Regions from separate parts of the Homo sapiens genome. Here region 1 is linked to region 2. Evidence: fine-mapped expression QTL. Tissue or cell type: whole blood. Region 2 holds a variant in brackets; the other region holds the start of a gene. All regions are shown on one strand. Distances are between the middles of the regions.

Evidence for each region.
Region 1: MYLK-AS1 starts here. The variant in region 2 is fine-mapped to the expression of MYLK-AS1 in whole blood (TOPMed, PIP above 0.99).

Annotation. Positions count from the first base shown.
Region 1 is chr3:123,580,504-123,591,230 of GRCh38, forward strand. It overlaps MYLK-AS1 (MYLK antisense RNA 1), which reads left to right and starts at 5,010. Exons shown (of 4, transcript NR_121654.1): 1 at 5,010-5,050; 2 at 5,144-5,298. It overlaps HACD2 (3-hydroxyacyl-CoA dehydratase 2), which reads right to left and starts at 4,550. Exons shown (of 7, transcript NM_198402.5): 1 at 4,370-4,550; 2 at 1,709-1,826. The coding sequence starts at 4,524. RefSeq lists silencers at 3,875-4,054, 4,065-4,674, 10,325-10,525 and an enhancer at 4,735-5,034.
Region 2 is chr3:123,635,690-123,646,416 of GRCh38, forward strand. MYLK (myosin light chain kinase) reads right to left here. Exons shown (of 34, transcript NM_053025.4): 28 at 4,598-4,815; 29 at 2,382-2,505. Among named protein-coding and RNA genes, the nearest start is that of MYLK-AS2, 49 kb to the right of the region's middle. RefSeq lists an enhancer at 258-919. The variant T/C (reference allele first, on the strand shown) is at 4,910.

The sequences.
Region 1 (10,727 bases), 55 kb before region 2:
CTGGGTGCAGTGGTTCACGCCTGTAATCTCAGTGCTTTGGGAGGCTGAGATGGGAAGATTGCTTGAGCCAAGGAGTTTGAGACCAGCCTGGGCAACACAGGGAGACCCTGTCTCTATGAAGTTTTAAAAATTATCCATGTATGGTGGTGCAAGCCTGTGGGCCCAGCTACTCTGCAAGCTGAGGTGGGAGGACTGCTTGGTCCCAGGAGTTCAAGGCTGCAGTGAGCCACGGCCATGATGGCACCACTGCACTCCAGCCTGGGCGACAGAACAAGACCCTGTCTCAAGAAAAAAAAAAAAATTGAGAATGAAAGGTAGAGGTATCACACTTCATTTCATGAGATAAAGAATTTTTTTTTTTTTTTTTTTTGAGACAGAGTCTCGTTCTGTTGCCCAGGCTGGAGTACAGTGGCGTGATCTCAGCTCACTGCAACCTTGCCTCCCAGTAGCTGGGACCACACGCCCGTGCCACCACACCCGGCTAATTTTTGTATTTTTAGTAGAGACGGGGTTTCACTGTGTTAGCCAGGACGGTCTCAATCTCCTGACCTCGTGATCCACCCGCCTCGGCCTCCCAGAGTGCTGGGATTACAGGCGTGAGCCACCGTGCCCAGCGAGATAAATGATTTTTTCTTAAGTATCATTCCATAGTTCAGGTTTTAAAAGTTGCCAGTAAAGTATAAATGTTATGATGGTCTTGCCTGGAGGCTAAGCAAAATGAACCAGATCTTCCCTGCAATCTGAAGGTTTTTCACCATAATGAAATATACGAACTATGGCGGCTATTGATTTTGTGTGCCCAAAGCTATCCCCATCCCTCTTTTCCATAAGCAAAGTCTATAGTCCCTTGGACAGAAGAATGGGCATGTGTCCTAAGATTGGCTAATCAAGCACCTCACATCACTGGCATAGTCTAAGTAGGGCCAACCAGAATCCTCTCTGGGAACTGTGTGACACAGATGCTGCGAAAAATAAACACCCTCCCTGTTTCCCACCATGTGGAGAGCCCAAGACCAACATTCAAAGAGAAACAGACAAGCAGAAATGAGAGAAAGCAAGAGAATCTGGCAGTGTCAGCTCCTTGGTTCTCATTCCTGAGCTAGTTTCTTTGTAAATTAATCCTGTATCTGTATCAACTACAGAGGCCAGAAAATTCCTTTTTTGCTTAAAATAGTTTGAATTGGGTTTTTGTCCCTTGCAATTCCAAAATCCTAATCTATACTTACCCCAAGAGAGAGGGCTGGATATACATTGCCCTTAATGCAGGGAAATCAATACATTTTTGTTAAATTTTTAAAATTTGGACGCCTCTAGACAGGCTCTCTATTATGTCTTCTATCTATCACTTCCAATATCCTACACCCACCAACTTCACTATTTCTATTACATAAACCCTGAAAGCATCTGATTTTGCCAGTGCTTCCCCAGGATGTCCCTAGAATTTTTAAAAATCCTAATATAAGCTTGCTTCAGTTGATTTCCCAAAAAAGTCGAATATAAAATACATTCAAGGTAACCTAAGTTAAATGAGATTCTACCCAATCTAGAACATCAAAAAGCCTAGGTATCAACACTTTAGTATGTGAGGAGGCAAAATTTCAAAATTTAACATGAATCCAAAGGGGGTATGCTACTTCAATATAATTTAGTTGCATGTTTTTCTTCATACCAATGGAAATCAATAACAACAATAAATCTCAGGACCTACCTCCAATAAGGCTCCAGTTTGAAAGAATTTCAAAGGCTTTTCAATTGAATAATAAAGGCTATGGTAGCTACCCTTAGCCAGGTATGCTCGGACCAGACCAACCGCTATAACCAGCCACCTAGTAAAAGAGAAAACAGCAATCAGGAAAAAATAAAAATAAAAAAAGTAGCATTTAGGTTAACACACAGCTGTGGCAATAAAAGATATTGCTAAAGGTGACCTCAAGCATGAGTAACCTGGATTTATGGACGATAGCTCTCAAATGCCAAGCTGTAATGCACTGAAATGTTGCAACACCGACAGCACCTTACCAAGAGGGCTCAGTGAAAGCATAGTGGCACCTCACCCATCTGGAGCTCATTTTTTTGGCAACTTTGCTATTGAGATCAAGGCCAAAAGGAAAGGAATAAGCTAAAATGGTCCTTGTGCCACTAAATCAGGTGCCAAGAAAATCTAAGACGAGAAAAAAACAGTTAAAGGAAAATTTTAAACAGCCTGTGCAGTTAAAGGGTTTTTAATAATTACAGGGTGGAAAGAAGATGCTTTAAACTATTGTTATAATTGTCTCACTGGAACAATTACCCATACCTTAAAATCTATCCTTTTAAAATTACGAATAAAGGGCTCTTGCTAAAAAAAAAAAGTTTTTTAGCCAAATTTCCTAAAATCAATGCAGAAATGAAAGCCAGATCAATACAAACCACGAAACAGGAAAGCACTTAAGCATACAGCTGTGAATGTTATATTTTTGTTCCACTGTCCTTCTCAAAAATAAACACAATGTTTTGTTAAGTTCCATAATAAAACAAATGGACCTTTTTATTAAGGTATGTCTCCTGGAAGGATTTAGATAAATGTATAGTATCAACTAGGCAATGGGGTGTGTGTGGTCTATGCTATTTCCAAAAACTATCACATAAGGACATCAAGTAAGAGTTTGTAAAAGAAGAAATTATTTAATGGTGTAACTGGTACAACCATTAACAGCCTTAAAAAAAAAGCTTACTTTGCTCTCACAATCCCAATTTATCTTCCTGGTTTAAGATACCACTCCTTACCCTCCACCCCATTCTCTATGTTCATTGCTCAGGAATAGACTTCTTTCTTCTTACCAATGTACCTCAAAATCCCTCTCCAGTCCAATGCCCTCACCGGCTCTTGCTAAGACAACAAGAATTTTATATATAAATATTAATACACACAGTGAGATTCCTGGATGTTTTTTTAAAAATCAATCTATGTGACCACTGATGTGATATAAAGCTTGTATCTGTACTAGTTCTTCATTGACCTGTGAGTCAAGAGAAATGATTTCTAGATCTGGAACTTCTACTAACAAGTTCTATGATCTCATGCAAGTCACAACTTCTCTGAGCCTAGGTTCCAACACCTACCATTTCTAATACTAGCAATACATATATGATCCTCCCACGATATATTTTCTTCTTCGTGAAAAAAAAGCAAGGTGCTGAACTGTAAAAATATTAATATATTGGCATTTGTCTTATTTTAAAAAGGGATAGGGGGATGTATAAACATATTTGCTTGCATCAGCATCTTAAGGATACACAAAATTAACTGCCTCGAGGGAGGGGAGCTGGGTAGAAGGGAAAGGTGGGAGGAAAGATTTTCACTGTATTCCCTCATGTTTTTCATTTTTAACCCTAACAATGTATCACCTACTTTAAATAAAAATGGATGTTCACTATACAATTCTTTCAACTCTTCTGTATGTTTGAAATTTTTCATAATAAAATGTTAGGACTTCTTAAAAAATTACAAATGAAGATAACTTAAAAATATATAACTGTCTGATGCTGTGATCCTCCTCACCAAAATGACAAGATAAAGAATTGCAGAGCTGAAGGAACCTTCATCACCCAGACCAACCCTTTAGTTTTACAAATGAAAAAACGGAGGCTAGAGAAATAAGATGATTTATCCAAAGTCACACAGCTAGTTAGTGGCAGAGCTTGAACTAAAAACCCGCCGGGATAAGGGATGCACTGAAATGAAAGAGACAGAAGATGGGTAAAACCGTTTCGAGGGTCCATTCTCCCCCTTTCCAGTAACTCTGCCTTCTACTCCCCAGTTTCTTCCCCACCCCAACCCATCCTAAAAGTCTAAACTCATCTAAAGCCTAGCTCTGCTCATGTCGCTGGCCAAAAACTTTGAACGCTTTCCCAATACCTTTCAGATTAAAGCGCAGCCCAGATTTTGAAAACAGCCGCCCAAATGAATGGTCACTCTGCAGCCACAGCTCCTCCACTCCCCATGCTGGCGCCGTTCAACATCCGAATCTGGCCGCCCAGGACGGGCTCCGCGCCGCAGGTAGTCCGGCCGCTGCCCCCGGCCCCGCACCTGTGGCCAGCCCCACCTTTCCTCCCGCGGCCCTCGCGAGCCAGCGCCCGGCAGCCGTCCCCGCGCCCCAGTGCCTGGGAACTTGGCTCGACCCCCAGCGCAGGAGGGAGCTCGCGGGCAGCCACCGGGGCCGATTCAGCGCTCGGCCGCCCTCAGCGCCCAGGTACCGGGTCCCGGGCACCCCCCGCCGGGAATGCACTGCCTGCGGCGGGCCGCGCCGATCCTATCCGCCCCGCCGCTGGCCGCAGGGCTCCCTCCCCGGCCGCGCTGGCTCCCCGCCTCCCCGAGCCCCAGCCTCACCCGGCTGTCATCACCACATTGTAGATGACCAGGTACGCCGTGGCCAGGGGCCCCGGGCCCTTCTTCTTCCGCGTGCCGCTGGCGTCCCCGGCCCCGGCCCTGCCACCGCCGCCCCCATTCCCCTTCGCTGCTGCAGTCGCCGCCACTGCCGCCATGTCAAGTGCCCGAAGCCCGCTCTCCTAGCGCGAGCGGCTCGGGCCGGACTACGCGAGGAGAGGGGGCGGAGGAAGGGACGAGGGGCAGGCGGGGCCAGGGCCGCGGGGCGGAGCCGGGACAGGGTCCACGGCAGCCGCCATCTTGGCTGAGGGCAAAGACGCTCCTGGCGCTCCCGTCTTTCGGCTTGCCTCAGTTGCCACTGCCATCTTGGATCAGGGTAATTCCCGCCTCTTGGGCGCTCCCGGTTACAACCTCGGCGCCATCTTGGATTAGTTCAATGTAGCCACCCTCTCCAGGCCCGCTGCTTCTGCCAGCTGGATGTTGCGTCGTCCCTCGCTATTCGCCCTCCTATAATCACTGCTTCCATGTTGAATCAAAACAATTATGCTTTCGTTCTCCCTTCTTCAATTGCCCTATCTTCACACCTGAACACTATTGCTCCGGTATCCTGCCATTTTGGATCAGGGCGGTTGACGGTGGATTCACTTCCCATCAGCCCTTGAGGCTGCAGGGACCAGCCCTTTGGTAGGTGCGCTTTGCTTCCTAACCCGTTGCCGGGTTGGAGATTCCACCTCCGAAGTTTTCTTTCTGACTTTTGATTTTACATTCCTAGTACAGTGGAGAAGCCCAGGCGGCCTAGAATCCAGTGTCGTCCGTGAGTGCTTGGCTGGTGTTCAAGTGCATCTTCCAGCCTGAGACCGCGTGGACTCGCTCATCGTGAGGGCGAGAGGAGGATAAGCCCATTGGGCTGTCGGCTGAGAGTGAGGTGCGGGGTAAGGGAGTAGATTTATAGCTATAGTGACTAAAAATAAAAGGATGTTGGCTTAGGTGGAAAACCTCTCTGCTTTGGGAAGCTGGAGCAGCTTGTGGGCATTGCTTCAACCAGCTGATCCCACTTTCCATTCATTGCTTTGTTTCAGGAGGTTCTTTATTTGTAAACGTCCCCTGCAATTTTTTACACACCCAAGCAGCTCCTTAAATGTATTACTGTATATGTGGTAGTATAAAATATTTATGGGTTCATTCCAGCAAGTGTTTATGGAGCGTCCACAAAGTTGCCCTGGAGTTCATGGCACTAAGTGAAAGAGACAAAGTCGTCAGTCTCCCAGGGATTATATAGAGCAGCGGCCCCCAACCTTTTGGTCAACAGGGACCGGTTTCGTGGTGGGGGGGTGGATGATGGTTTCAGGATGATTCAAAGGCATTACATTTATCATTAGATTCTCATAAGGAGCACACAACTTAGATCCCTCCAATGCGCAGTTCACAATAGGTTCCCCGCTCCTATGAGAATCTGATGCCACCGCTGATCTGAGGGAGGCGGAGCTCAGGAGGTAATGCTCCCTTGCTTGCTGCTCACCTCCTGCTGTGCCTCCTGGTTCCTAACAGGCCAGGGATTGGTTCTATCCGCAGCCTGGGGCTTAAGGACCCCTGAGGGAACCAGACGAAAATGCTCGTATTAGTTGGTGAAAAGTGGTATCAGGAAGTTATTACAATAATCCAGCCATGGTGATAGTGGTGTGGGCCAGAGTGGTGGAAATCGAGGTGATGAAAACAACAATGAATTCTGTGCGTATTTTAGAAGTAGAATTATAAGATTTGTGGATATGTTAGTTTTGGAGTGTGAGGTCAAAGGCGTTTTGAGCAACTTGTAAGAAACCATTTTTAAGGCGGAAGTCGGGAATTTTGTTTTTTATATGTTGAATTTGAAATCCTTATTAAACATCCAAGTGGAGAGGCTGGATAGACAATTAAATTTAGACCCTGAGGTTCGGGAAGGAAGTCCAATGGGCTAGAGATATAAATTTGAGAGTTGTCAACCTAAAATAATAAAAAAGGTAAGAATCTAGTTTAAAGGAAGTTTATTCAAGCATAAAGGTTGAAGATGGCTACCTGGGAGCATAGATTCAAGTTACCCTAAATATACACTCTGATTAGCAGCGGTTATGAGTGGGTTTTTAAAGGAAAAAGAGGCAGCTTCTAAGTTGTTTACTAAGAATTTACATTAAAATTACATTAGCTATTGATTGGCTATAAACTATTCTTTGTATCACAGATTCCAGGAACATGAAGATAATGGGTGAGGCTGCTAGTCAGGAACAAAATGTCTAAACAGTTGCCCCCAGGCAAACTCTTGTCTCTGGGCCTGATAAATTTTTGCATACTTCACATAGCTCAGACAGCTCAGAGCTGTTTGAGGTATTATCTTTTCTCAGAGTTCTGAGGGTGGTGGTGGTATTTAAATCCATGACACTGTAATCACCCAATACGTTCTTCCTTCCCACTGCACAGACAAAATCAATTCATAGAGACCATGGCATTGCAATAAAGAATTTAATTGACATGAGATAGGTCTTGGAGATGGAGTTATTACTCCAAATCTCCCCCAAAATTCAGAGGGTAGGGTTTTTCAAGAATAGTTTGGCTAAGATCTGAGAGCTATAGTCAAAACAAAACAAAACAAAACACCCACCCCCCCCCCAACACACACACAGTTTGGCAGGCAGGAGGCTGGAGGAATGGGTGCTGCTGATTGGTTGGGAATGCAATTATAGGGGTGTGGAAAATGGTCCCCCTGCACTGAGCCTGCTTCTGGGTGGAGGCCACAGGACTGGTTGAGCCAAGAGTCAAAGGTCTCAGTGGGGTCGTCAGCCATCCGAAATGCAGAAGCCTGAAAGTTTATCTCAAAAGGCCAATCTTAGGTTCTACAGTAGTGAACTGGGGAAGCTGCAAATCTAGTGACCTCTGGAATAGTGGCTGGTAATCATTTAACTTAACAAAGCCTATGTCTTAGCAGAATTCAAGCTCCTCTTATCCTTCTAACCTGGTGGCTTTTCATTAGTTTTACAAAAGTGGTTTAGTTTTGGGGAGGGGCTATTATCGCTTAAACTGTAAACTAAGTTTCTCCCAAAGTTAGCTTGGTGCAAGCCCAGGAATGACCAAGGGCAGTTTTGGAGGTTAAAGATGAGAAAGGAAAACCCCAGATTCACTGAGCCAAAGGGAAAAGTCAAGCTGGGAACTGGGTCACACAAACCTGCCTCCCATTTGGTTCCTAAATAAGATAGCTACAAAGATAAAAGCTATATACTTCCCTCACATTTTACCCACAAGGAAATTCCTTTTAGGCCCAAAGATCTTTACTCTAAAACAGTTCTGTTGAATTTCAACCTGGCAATGTAAGTTGATATCTTCACAGGTATGGGACATAGGACAGAATTCAAAGTCTTCCCTCTCCTCACCTGAGACAAATGCATATCTGATTGCTTCCTCTGCCCTATTGTCTACGTTATCTTATGTAAAAATACAGATTAACTGAGCCAGACTAAGGCATGAATATTTCCTCCACTCCCCACTCACATGAAAATTGTGTATTCAAAAGGATGCAACTGTTTTATCTTTTTATCTACTGACACAATTTAAAAATATTTCTTGGCTGGGCGTGGTGGCTCACGCCTGTAATCCCAGCACTTTGGGAGGCCAGGCAGGCAGATCAGGAGGTCAGGAGTTTGAGACCAGCCTGGCCAGTATGGTGAAACCCCATCTTTACTAAAAATACAAAAATTAGCTGGGTGTGGTGGTGCGCGCCTGTAGTCCCAGCTACTTGGGAGACTGAGGCAAGAGAATCGCTTGGAGTTGGAGGTTGCAGTGAGCCGAGATTGCGCCGCTGCACTCCAGCCTGGTGACAGAGCGAGACTCTGTCTCAAAAAAAAAAAAAAATTTCTCTTCCCCCAGTATCCACCCTTTCCCCTTTAAGTACTGAAGCCCTCAAAATCATCTTTGGAGATAGGCATATACCTGCCTCCCTGGCATGCATCCTTTACTATGGCAAATAAACCTCCTAAAATGATTGAGACTTGCCTTGATCGTGTTCTTTGATTTACAGAGTCAAGGTGGGGGCTGGTTAGATCAGATCTCTCTCAGTCATAATTTTCTCACTGTTACAATTTTTGCAAAAGAAGTTTCAAGACCTCAAGAGATGAAGTGAGAGGCATAAGTTGACAATTGTCAGGGTCCCATCCTTTCCCGCCATGGCAGATTGTTCAGAGATTCTGTTGCCTTGTTTTCCTGAAATTTTTTTTTTTTGGAGACGAAGTCTTGCTCTTGTCCCCCAGACTGGAGTGCAATGGCACACTCTTGGCTCACTGCAACCTCCGCCTCCCAGGTTCAAGCAATTCTCCTGCCTCAGCCTTCCAAGTAGCTGGGATTACAGGTGCCTGCCCCCACGCCCAGCTAATTTTTGTATGTTTAGTAGAGACGGGATTTTGCCATGTTGGCCAGGCTGGTTTCGAACTCGTGACCTCAGGTGATCCACCTGCCTCGGCCTCCCAAAATGCTGGGATTATAGGCATGAACCACCACACCCGACCTTCCTGAATTTTTCAAAGAGCAAGTTGGTGAGCCCAAATTGCACACTGTGATCAGAGGGCAAAAAAATTTCTTTGCAAAAGAAATAAAGAAGTGAACCATTTTACAAAACCAAATAATCATTCATCTAAAAGCTTCTTTCATTCATTTGACTGATTTTTTTTTCAATATAATCTACTTAATGGGAAAGTAGGAGGAGGCAGGAATGCATAAAGTTCTGTTCAGTTGGAAATCAGTTTAAAACTCAATGTATCTTCTTGCAGTCACTTAGGCCCAACTCCAGTCTGTTGTTTATAGCAGCAATCTCCAACCTTTTTGGCACCAGGGACTGGTTTCATGGAAGACAATTTTTCCATGGACTGGGGAGGGAATGGTTTCAGGATGAAACTGTTTCACTTCAGATCAGCAGGCATTAGATGGAGCCTGCAACCTAGATCCCTCGCCTGCATGGTTCATGATAGGGCTCGTGTTCCTATGAGAATCTAATGCCGCTGTTGGTCTGGCAGGAGGTGGAGATCAGGTGGTAATGCTCACTTGCCTGCTGCTCACCTCCTGCTGTGTGGCTGGGTTCCTAACAGGCCATGGACCTGTACCAGTCTGTGGCCCAGAGGTTGGGGACCCCTGCTCTACAGTACAGCCAAAGTGATCTTTTCCACATACAACCTTGTTCGTGTCTACTACCTTCCTCTGCCCCACCCCTGAAGATATTTAAATGGCTTTTGATGACACTTAGGATAAAGCATAAAATATTTAATATGGTATACAAAAATCTGCATAGACTAGACCCTACCTGCCTCCTCAGTCTCACCATGCCCCTCCTAGTCATACTGGCCTCATCTTAGGTCTTCCATCGAGCAGTACTCCTTTTTTGCCTCAGGGAATTTGCACATGCTATTCCAATCATACCTTCCCAACAGTACCCCAAAGTCTTAACTCATTTCAGCATTAACTCAAAAGTCCAAGTTCAAAGTCTGATCTGAGACAAGGCAAGTCTCTTTCACCTACAAGCCTGTAAAATCAAAAACAAGTTAGTTACTTCCAAGATACAATGGGGGTACAGGCATTGGGTAAATGTTCTCATTCCACATGGGAGAAATTGGCCAAAACAAAGGGGCCACAGGCCCCATGCAAGTCTGAAACCTGGTTGGGCAGTCATTAAATATTAAACCTCTTAAATACTCTCCTTTGACTCCATGTCTCACATCCAGTGCATGCTGATTGAAGAGGTGAGCTCCTAAGGCTTTGGGCAGCTCTTGCCATGTGGCTCTGCAGGGTACAGTCCCAAAGGCTGCTTTCATGGGCTGGAGTTGAGTGCCTGAAGCTTTTCCAGGTCCAGGGTGCAAGCTGTTGGTGGATCTACCATTCTGGGGTCTGGAGGACAGTGGCCCTATTCTCAGATCCACTAGGTATTGCCCCAGTGGGGACTCTGTGTGGATGCTCCAACCCCACATTTCCCTTTTGCACTGCACTAGTAGGGGTTCTCCATGAGGGCTCCGCCCATGCAGCAGACTTCTGACTGGACATCCAGTCATTTCCATACATCCTCTGAAATCTAGGCATAGGTTTCTAAACCTCAACTCTTGGCTTCTGCACACTTGCAGGCCCAACACCACATAAAAGCTGCCAGGGCTTGGGGCTTGTACCCTCTGAAGCAATGGCCCAAGCTGTACCTTGGCCCCTTTTAGCCATGAGGTGGAGTGGCTGGGACACAGGGCACCATGTCTTGAGGCTGCACACAGCAGTAGAGCCCTGGGCCTGCCTAGCCCAGGAAACTATTTTTCCCTCCTAGGCCTCTAGGTCTGTGATGGGAGGGGCTGTCCTGAAGATCTCTGAAATT
Region 2 (10,727 bases):
CCACCGAAAAGAACTCTCATTTGACAATAAAGTGCCCTATGACCCAATTATTCTAGTTCTAGATTATATATCCAACAGAAATGTACAAATATATTCACTGAAACACGTGAACCAGAATGCTTCCAATGGCCAAACTGGAACCCACTCAAAAGCCTATCAAAGCAGAACGGATAAATTAACTGGATTATATTCACACAATGGGATACTACATAACACTGAGAATAAACAGTCTACAATGACACATAGTACTATGAATGAGTCTCACAAACGATGTCAAGCAAAAAAAGCCAGACACTTCTTTCTGTATGATTTCATTGACATTAGCCTTGAGGGTAATGGTGACCTCTGGGGGTTGGTAACAGGGAGGGGTGCCAGAGGGCTGTGGGGGCCTGGCAGTGCTTGGTTTCTTGATCCGGGTAGAGGTTACACAGGTGAAAACTTAGTGAGCAGTCTAGTCACTGCTCTGTCACTGACCAGTAGAGAGACCAATTGTCCTGGTTTGCCTGGGACTGTTCCCATGTTAGCACCAAAAGTCCTGTATCCTGGCAGACTGGGACGACTGGTCCCCTGGCCCGACTGTGGGAAGTGGGCAGCCACGTGGGCTTCCTTGGCCCCTGTCACCTCAACGCCACATGAAGATGGAATCCCTGCCATGATCCACTCTTGGGTTTGTTGTGAGCATCAAACAAGGTCCTATGTGAAAATCTGTAGCTGCAGAAGATCCTGATGCCACGGCAGTGGGAAAACCCACTGAAGAATAAACAGTAAGGCAAGTCTCCATGACGGCTGGAGGGGGACCCTGGGACCAAGCGAGACCACAGCGCAGCTGGGGCTGAACAGTGAGAGCTGACCAAGGACTGCTTCTCAAGGGTCTGGTGTTTTTCCCAGGGCCAGAGGTTAGCACTGCCCAGGCCTGGGGCCGCCCTGAAAGGGGCAGGCTGGCCCCGCCCCCTACCCTGCTGTTCCTTACTTATCTAGGGAGCCAGGGAGTCAAGCTCCAGTCCAGCTGCTGTCTTCACTTGTCAGCGCCCCTTCTCCAAGAGGGGGCGGGGCAGGGAAACAGGCAGGGAAATGCACACCTGGCCCGGGGTTTTTCTGCTGATCTGGGGAAGGCTGTGGTGGTGGGGCTAATCCCAGGCAGGAAAGAGGATAACTGTCTGGACTACAATGCCTGTGGTGCAGGTTCCACTGAGGGGACTGTCCTAACAGGCTATAGTGAGTAAAGTTCCTGAGCATGTGAAAAAGTCACATTGCACAAAATTCACACCACTTCTGCTAAAGCTTTTATAACACTGGTTTCTAAACCTGGCTATGCATCAGAATCGCCCAGAACCTTCTCTCACACTGGAGTCTGAAGGCCCCAGGGGTCTAAGAAAGTATTCATAGAGGTCTTCCTCATTTTCTATGAAAATGTTAAATTTTTCCTTTTGTTCTGACAGTAAAAACATTATTGAATGAAAGCATACACATCTGCATCTTTGGGGACACCATCCCATAACTGCATGTGGCCACACAGGTTCAGGGGCTAATGACCGTCCGCACCCTGGGGCTTCAGGGACTAAAGCAGCCAGACCCCACCGACAGAGTGTTCTCAAGCCTTGTTACTCAGAGCGCAGTCGTTGAACCAGCACATTCACAAACCTAGAGCCTGTTAGAAATGTGGCATTCCAGGTCACCCAGACCTGAACAAAAACCCTGCAATGTAAGGAGCCGCCTAGGTGAGTCAGGCATGCTAATGTTTGTGAAGTGCCGGCCTAGATGGCTGGCCTCCCCTCTCCTGCATTATTGTTCATTGAAATGGCTTTGGATTTCCCACCTGATTTTTCAGTTCTAATTACTGTGTTACTTTCTTTTATCTGTTAGTCCCATTGAAGGCTCGATCATCAATAGTGTTTATTAATTCATCCATATACTAGACTCAAAGATGAGGCTAGTAGTTGGGGTCCCCGTGCCTTGGGGATGGAGTGCTATGCCCTGAAGACAATGAGGATGCCCAGAGATTCGCCCCTGGCCTCCTGCCCTCCTTCTTTGTGGACCCACACAAGTGAGGTTTTATTACTTGGTGCCAGCCACATTTCCCACCCTCCTGACCAAAGGCCCCAGGCTGGCCAGCCTTGGGGACAGTGAGCACCCAGAATGGGGATCTTAGCATGTGTAGCTACATGATGCTATAGAATATGCATGCTACTGACTCCCTGGGAGCCCAGGAGCAGGGTGGGCTGCCAGGGATAGGAGGGGAGCCTGCCACCCTCCTGACTCTGGGGGGGGCTCCCCATCATGACAATGGCAGGGCAGCCTGGGGACCCTCCTGTGGAACCCTCAGCCCCCACCCACTGGTCCACCAAGTGGTCCACCAGTCCACCAAGTGCCCCAGGACTCACAGGATGTAGCAGATGACCCCGATGCTCCACATGTCTGTGGCGTAGCCGATGGGCTCATAGTTGATCACTTCAGGAGCCACAAATTCTGGGGTGCCAAAGAGGACCTTCAGAGACCCCGCATTCTCTGAAACCAGGATGGAGAGGGATAAATTGCCAGCACATCACGGAGCCAGCTTGAGACCAGCAGCTGCCCGAATCTGTGTGTTGACCCCAACCTGGGAGGGGCCAGACACAGGCTTTGGCACAGAGAACAGGCACAGAGACATCTGACCTCCTTGTTAAACAGGTGCGTCAACACACCAGTGAAACCAACAAACCTCACACTCACCTCAAATGTCCTGTGCAGGGTGGGCAGGGGGAGAAGAGGCCGCTAAATCACCCGCCCCTGAATGGTCTTTTTGTGAGTCTGTCTCATGAGTTAGTTCCCCTAGGCAGGGACTGTGACTTATGCTTAATAATAATCTCTAGCATTCACTATGTCCTATGTACCCCACCGGCAGCTTTACAAGGGTTCTCACCCACCCCAAGGGGTAGGTATAATGCCCGTGCTACTGAGAACATGAGTGAGGCCCAGGGAAGTGCAGTGATTTCCCCACCCGGTTAACAAGTGGTGGTCGGGACTCAAGCCCAGGTAGTCCAACTCCTGAGCCATGCTTACCACCGTTCCTCCCTCCTGCCTCTCCTACTCCTCACACAGCTTCATGGCTGTCCTTCAGGAGCTACTGGTAGGGTAGTCGGGAGAGGCTTCAACCCCAGGGTGGTACCTCTTGGCCATAAAGGACCAGAGATGTCTGTTAATATGTGCAAAAGGCAGGTACCTGTGGGCTATGCCTGGTCTTGCTTAACTTCGCAGAGCTCACAGCAAATGTTCTAAAACAAAGCATTTAACAGCCCTCAGATGTGAAAGCTCTGCTCCAATTCCTGCCTCTCAGCCCTTTCTGCTACATTTTAGCCACTTCTCAGTTATCTGGTCCTTGGTGGACACGGTTGTTCCCACAGTATCCCTCACCAGTGGAAGCTGGACATTGTGTTCCCTGGGCTCTGACACTGCCGACTCCTGAGGACAGTGGCCTATTTGTTTAATTTATTGGTGGTCACTGTTCAAAGGCAGGCCCTGTATGCCAGCCACTGCCCCTACCCTGTCCTCTTAGCAGGAGTGAGCAGAGCAGAGCAGGCACATGCGCCCAGCGCCGAGGCATGTTTCTCACCTGACTGCGCTGACCACCAGACCGGTCATAGTCTATCGGAACCTCGCCCCTGCTTACCCCTTTCCTCTTTATGACCAACACAGCCTCAGCCAGCACTGAACATCGTGGGAGACATTTATTGGGTGGCATTCATTTGGCCCCTCCTTTCTACTACCTGCAGGGTGGTGAAATAAAGCCAGCTCACCCCAGCCCTCGGGCTCCTTGCTAGCAGGGCAGTGGCTAAGAAGGGAGGATGAAGCTGTTTCCTCAATCACCGGGACATCAAAGGGCTGCAGAGGCAGGCTGGATGCAGGCAGAATGTGAGCCAGGCAGGCATCTACCAAAGTGCTTTCAGGGCGGCCTTGAGACCCTGACCGCCTACCCCTGTGACCTCTCTCCTGGCTAGCATAAGAATCAGAGGTGCTGCAGAGCACCCTGAGCAAGGTCTGGGGTCCTTGTTCCAATCCCAGCACATCCCCTGGCTCACAGTGGGACCTCCTGGGCAAAGCTATTGTGAACCTTTGTTTCCTAGTCTACAAGTTGGGGCTCATAAAATCTACCCTGCTCACCTCATGGTGAGAATCATAGGGTTTATTTTTTATGTGAAAGTGCTCTAGAAACTGTACAGTATGATGCAGATGTGCAGAGCCACCATCACCAAAATGACTTTTGCTGCTAATGGCACCAGAGTGAAAAACAAAAGGGGATAATCATCATCATATATACAGCTAACACCTAAGCAGTCTTACTATGTGCAAAGCACTCTTCCCATCCCTTTACCTATATTAACACATTTGATCCTCCTAACAAATCTGTGAGTTAGGTCCTACTATGATCCCACTTTTCTGATGGGGAATTTGAGGCTTACTGTCACGTCTAGTATGTGGTAGGGGCAGGATTCAAACCTGGGAAGTCTTCATGGTCTCGGATTTAACCCCAATACTGTATGTTTCCTCTCACACTCAGTGTGAGAGGAAACGGCCAGTGCAATACACACTGGTGTCCATGGGAGAGGCAGATGAGCCTTACCCAGCCTCCTGGCCAGACCAAAGTCGATGAGCTTGATCCTGGTGCCCGTCTTGTTGACACACATGATGTTCTCCGGCTTGAGGTCCAGGTGCACGATGCCCTGCTTGTGGATGTACTCCACTCCCTCCGAGATCTGCCGCATGTACTTGATGCACTCACGCTCCGTCAGCTCAAAGTCCTCGTCAATGATGCGCTCAAACAGCTCCCCTCCTGACACGCTGCGGGAACACGTGCACGGGGTGGTCAGGCCACAGGCTCATGGAGGCCAGGCTGGCAGGGAGTCTGGCCAGGGTAGGCTGGGGGTAGGAGAAA[T/C]TGGCAGGAAAGCCCAGGGAATGGGGGTGATGGGCAATTCCTGAATCCCCACCCTCCGACATGGGAGAAGGGTCAGGGCCTCCTGGTTTCCCATCAGGGAACCCTGCCCTGCACCTTCTAAGCTGCTGGGGACTCAGGGAAGCATCTACACTAGGCAGTTTCAGAGGTGGGTGTGAACACAGAGATCCAGACATGATCTTCTTAGCAAAAAGAGTGACCTCTAAACAGTCTCTTTCCCTCAAATGACCACACATGCCTAAGGGAACATTCTTGTACTCTAGCCGTGTCTTTTAGTCACAGGGAACTCAAGTTCAAAATACTCACAGTTCCCACAAGCATTTGTTCTGCATAGCCAGGAACGGAAAAATATCTTCAATCATCAATAATGAGCCTCAGCAAATTTTCTAAAATTAGTTGGCTGTAACTCATTATACCTACAGCTGTGACAGATTTGCTTACTCTGGCCAGGCCTATAGTATTGGTTTACTCCCTGCAGTCATAATTAACTGGTCTCCCTTGGACCCCTTCCTTACCCCAGCTGTGTAATCCTTTCTAACTGGATAGGCTTTGGATCCTGGCTATTTCTAGTGAACTTTGCTTCTGCAGCCACAGGCATGCATCCTCTGCTAGGGACTGCCCCGGGGTCTCAGCCATCAGCATATTGCCCTTCAGTGCAAATGCATGGCCCCACCGCCTGAGTTGCATGAGTCCTCTCTGTTCCCCTGTCCTAGCCCTCTGACCCACCTTTCTTGGTCTCTGCTTAGCAAGTTTAAAGCATCTCTCTGGTAACTTATGCAGCACCCAGATATCAGTAAGCTTGCTTTTCTTTTTTTCTTCTTCAATTTTTTTTTTTTGGTAGAGACAAGGAGTTCAAAGTTATGTTGAGCTATGATCACACAACTGCACTCAAGCCTGGGTGACAGAGCAAGACCCTGTCTCAAAAGTGAAAGAAAGGAAAGGAAGGAGGAGGGGAGGGGAGCCCAAGCTGGTCTGGAACTCCTGGTCTCCAGCGATTATCCCACCTCAGCCTCCCAAAGTGCTGGGATTACAGGCATAAGCCATCATGCCTGGCCTATAACCAACCAACCTACCTATCTTCCTTCCTTCCTTCCTTCCGTCCTTCCTTCTGTCCTGCCTGCCTTCCTCCCTCCGTCCCTCTCTTCCCTCCCTCCCTCTCTTCCCTCCCTCCCTTCCTCCCTTCCCTCCCTTGCCTCCCTCCTTTCCTCCTTCTCCCCTCCCCTCCCCTCCTCCTTCCTTTCCTTTCTTTCGCTTTTGAGACAGGGTCTTGCTCTGTCTTCCAGGCTTGAATGCAGTTCTGTGATCATAGTTCAACATAACTTTGAACTCCTGGGCTCAAGCGATCCTCTTGCCTCAGCCTCCCAAGTAGCTAGGACTACAGGTATGTGCCACCGCACCTGGCTAATTTTTTTAATGTTTTGTAGAGACAGGGTCTCTCTCTGTCACCCAGTCATAAGCTCATGTTTCTGCAGTGGCCTGTAGGTCCACCAGTTGAACAAGGCCGGGTGGGTTCTGGGCCTGTCCTCTTGCAAGGGTATTTCCTCTCCTACAGAGAGTCCTCACGAAGAGGAAAGGAGCTGAGTTTGAATCCTGCTTCTGCCTTTTATGAGCTGTGTGACATTGGGCAAGTTGCTTAACCTTTCTGAGTCCCAGTTTCCTTATCTATCCCTGCCTCATAGAGTTTTTAGGAATGTAGGAGGCTTTGTAAAGTATCATGCCTAACACACAGAAGGTGCTCAACACTTATTACTTATCGTTTGATAAGCTGTGGTGGGCTAGGTGGATCTTGTCACTGACCCCTGCAGGAGAGAGACAGGGATGCACTGTGGGGCCCAGCATACCACAGCCTCTGCCACGTGACACACACACTCACTTCTGGAAGGGCTGAACTGGAGAAGGTCAGTCTGTGCCAGTGACAGCTGGAGGGAGCTAGAACTCATACTTTAAAACCCATCTGAGAAGAAGGTCCCCAAATGGCCTGCAGGTGGCGCTCTTGTCCTTATGCCCTCCATTTCTATTGCTCTCTGCCAAGGCTCCAAGACAAACTCTCATCTACAAGTATTCTTAGGTCTCAGCCAGTTATTAACATCTCTGTGCTTCATTTTCCTCATCTGTAAGATGCAGATTAAAAACAGCCTCACCTCACAGGGTGGCTTCAAAGACTAAATGAGTCAACACAGGTAAAGTGCTTGGAAGTGTCTGGCACACAGTCAATGCTCAATATTAATGATCAATTTTCTATGTAAAGAATCACTTGGGGCTCTTATTAAAAATACAAATTCCCAAGCTCCTCCTCTGGAGATTTTGATTTAGAAAGTCTTGGGAGAGATCTGAGGATCTATATTTGTAATAATTACTCCAGGTCATCCTTATGATCAGACAAGTTTGAGAAATACTGGCTTACTCAACTACCACTCCTGGGAGGCCAGCTGAAATTCACGCCCTCTGAAAAAGTCACTCCCCATTTCTTCACATGGAATGATCTTTCCCTCACTGGGCATCCATGGCCTTATGTCCATAGCCTTGTCTCTGCACTTTCCATGGCCTTATGTCCATGGCCTCGTCTCCGCACTTTGTGTATCAAGTTGGCTTTGCCTTGAAGTTCTGAACACATCACAGGTGGCAGGCTCATCTCTAGACCCTTATTTGCCTCCGACTATATTTGGCACAGACAAGGTGCTCCAAAATGTTTACATTTAAATTTTAAATATTCTGAAAAAGCAAGCAACCATTGTTTTCAATGCCCTTGGGAATGTCTGAGGCAGTGAGTGGTGGGAATCTGAGCCATGGAGATAATTCCTGCTGCATTTCTGGAGGAAACCTATTCAATATAAATTCAAATAGGTTCAATCCTATTCAGATATACTTATTATATTTTGAAAACTGTTCCTATGGTTCAACTTTCTAAGATGGAAGGGGTTAAAGAGGCAGGATTAATGGTTCTGTGGGTTTATCTTCAAAATACTTAATGCTATGGGTGGAAAATATTGGTTTGATAGACAGAAACTGCCACCCACAGTAATGGGATAATGCCAAGGGCCAAGATTAGGCTTAAATTAATGGTGAGTGAGTGAATGACTAAATAAATAAGTGATCCCTATCCTAAGGAATCAGATTCATCCCCCAAACCCTAGACCTTGGCTAGCTCTCATAGGAAGCAAGAAGGAATGGTGCTATCACTGGACTCGAGACCCTCCGCTCCTTGCCCTATGGCAGCCAGCTGGAACGTTCTTTGATAAATTTTGCTAATAGTAGCACAAACATGAGATGAGCCATGGATGACACAGCTTAAACTTCACATTGTCTTCAATGCTCAGGGTCCCACAACCACCTGGAATGTCCCAAGCACTTCCAAAAGGACAAGCCCAAGTAGGCCAGGGGCCTGAAGGAACTGCTGTGTCAGACCAACTACTATATGGTGGGGGCTCATCCAGTAATCAGAAGTCAGAAAGGATGAAGACACATTCATTACTATTTCCCACTAGATCTGAAGCAACTGGACTTAAGGCAGGGACCCTGGAATACATTTCCATTATTCTATCCCCAGGCATCATCCTTCTTTTAATCTCAGTTTCTCCATCCAACAAGGTTAGCACATTGCACTGGTGAAAATCATTCTTTCCCTTCTCAGTGGTCAAGTCTTAGAGTGTTTAAGCTGGAAGGGATGTATAGATGGAGTATGAACCTGTTCCCTTCTTCTTTGGTTGACTGAGTTCTTACCAAGTTCCTACTCTTGGCGACCTGGCCAAGGTCCCAAGTGCAGGCAAATTTTCTGGTATCTGGGCATGGAAGACCTGCTGCTGTCCACAGGGGAGGCATGGGGTGGAGGGATGAAAGCCAGACTAGCTGAAGCTTTCTTACATTTTCTCTTTGCTTTTTCCATCCAGCTTGCCAACTCCCAATTCCAAGCTAAGTATGGTATTCTGCCCACTGGTGCTGCTGCCTAGCCTTCCCCAGGCCCTGTGACTCCTGCCCTCCCTGCACCCTCTCAACTTGCTCAAGGTTTAACTTCTAAAGATAAGACATTTCTCCACATGTCCTCACATGCCCACACCGCCTGGACTAAGCAACCTGTTCTAGAATAAATGTGAAAAGATGCAGCCCACGGGGCTATTGTGAGGGTGTAAAGAATGAGGTCACAGATGTGGGCTACGTATTTCCTGAAAATGGGGAGGAACATTTGAATTTGGGGCTGAATGTAGATTGTAAGATACGAATGGAAATTCTTCACCGCGTCTTTTATGGTTCCATGAAATAGTAGAATTTTATAACCAAAAGGGGCATCTTGAGATTGACTGTTCTAATCCAAGTACTTCTTCGTGCTGATAGGATTTGACAATTGCAAAATCATGACTCAATAGTAGCAGAAACTGAAGCCAGGCTTCCTGAATACTAGGGAGGATTTGTTCCACAACACCTTGTTGGAAGTTAAATGCTCAAAAAGTATTTTTAAGTGGAAAAAAACCAGGATACAAAAAAAGTCAATGTATCATACTACTAACAATAACTCCCCATTATAGAGCACTGTGCCCTATATGCATTATTGCATTGAATCCCACAGCGTTCATGAGGTGGGTGTCGTATCTACATTTATGGATAATAAAACTAGGGATTGGTACAATAGAATAACTTACTCAAGGTCAAATAACAAGTTAGAAGCAGAGCTGGGATTTGAAGTAAGGTTCATCTGACTCAAGCCTACACTCGGAACTACTATTGCCTTTCCTAAGGAACACATACGGAAAGGAAATACTTGTGTGCCAGAATGTTAATGGCATGAGGGGAGAGAAAAGACTAATATTCCACTCATATCTACAGCTTGGGGATGTCTTACTGGACTCAACTTTCCTGGGAGAGAATTCCAAGATGCTAACAGAGCCCTCACCAAAGGACAGAGACCCCCCAAGTTCAGGATGAGCATTTCAAGGATGTTGAAAGCAATTTCACAATATCTCTAAAGATTTCAAATGTGCATACCCTTTAACCCAGCTCTCCTTCACTTCTGGGAGTTTATCCTATAGATATTCACAGGCATGAGTGAAAAGATGTGTGTACAAGGTTACAAACGATGCTTGTTTGTAAAAGCAAAAGGCTGGAAACCACTCAATCTCTATCAAAAGAAGGCTGCTTAAATGAATTGTGATTTTCTATACAACAAAACCCCACAGAGCTGTGAGAATGAGGAAGCTCACTAGGTAGTGAGATGGGACTAACTCCCATAGCAATTTGCTGAAAAAGCAAAGTAGGTTGGGTGCGGTGGCTCACGCCTGTAATCCCAGCACTTTGGGAGGCTGAGGCAGATGGATCGCTTGAGCCCAGGAGTTCGAGACCAGCCTGGGCAACATGGTGAAATCCTATCTGTACAAAAATACAAAAATTAGCTGGGTGAGGTGGCGTGAGCCTGTGGTGAGGTGGGAGGATCGCTTGAACCTGGGAGGCGGAGGTTGCAATAAGCCGAGATGGCACCACTGCCCTCCAGCCTCGGCGACAGAGTGAGACTCTGTCTCAAACAACAACAACAACAAACAAACCAAACTAAAAAAGCAAAGTATATGACAGTGAGTATAAGAAGTTACTTTTTGTGTTAAAAGGCAAGAAAATAAGAATATATATATGTGTGTGTGTGTCTGTATACACTTATATTTTCATAAAGAAACTTTGGAAGGATACAGATAAAAGCCAATAAAATTGTTTGTGTTGGTGATGGTTGTAGTGTTTAGGAAAGGATAGACAGGAATAATGGTGGAAATTAGACTTTTCACTGTGTATTTCCTAATATTTTTTGAGGTGATTGTAGCAT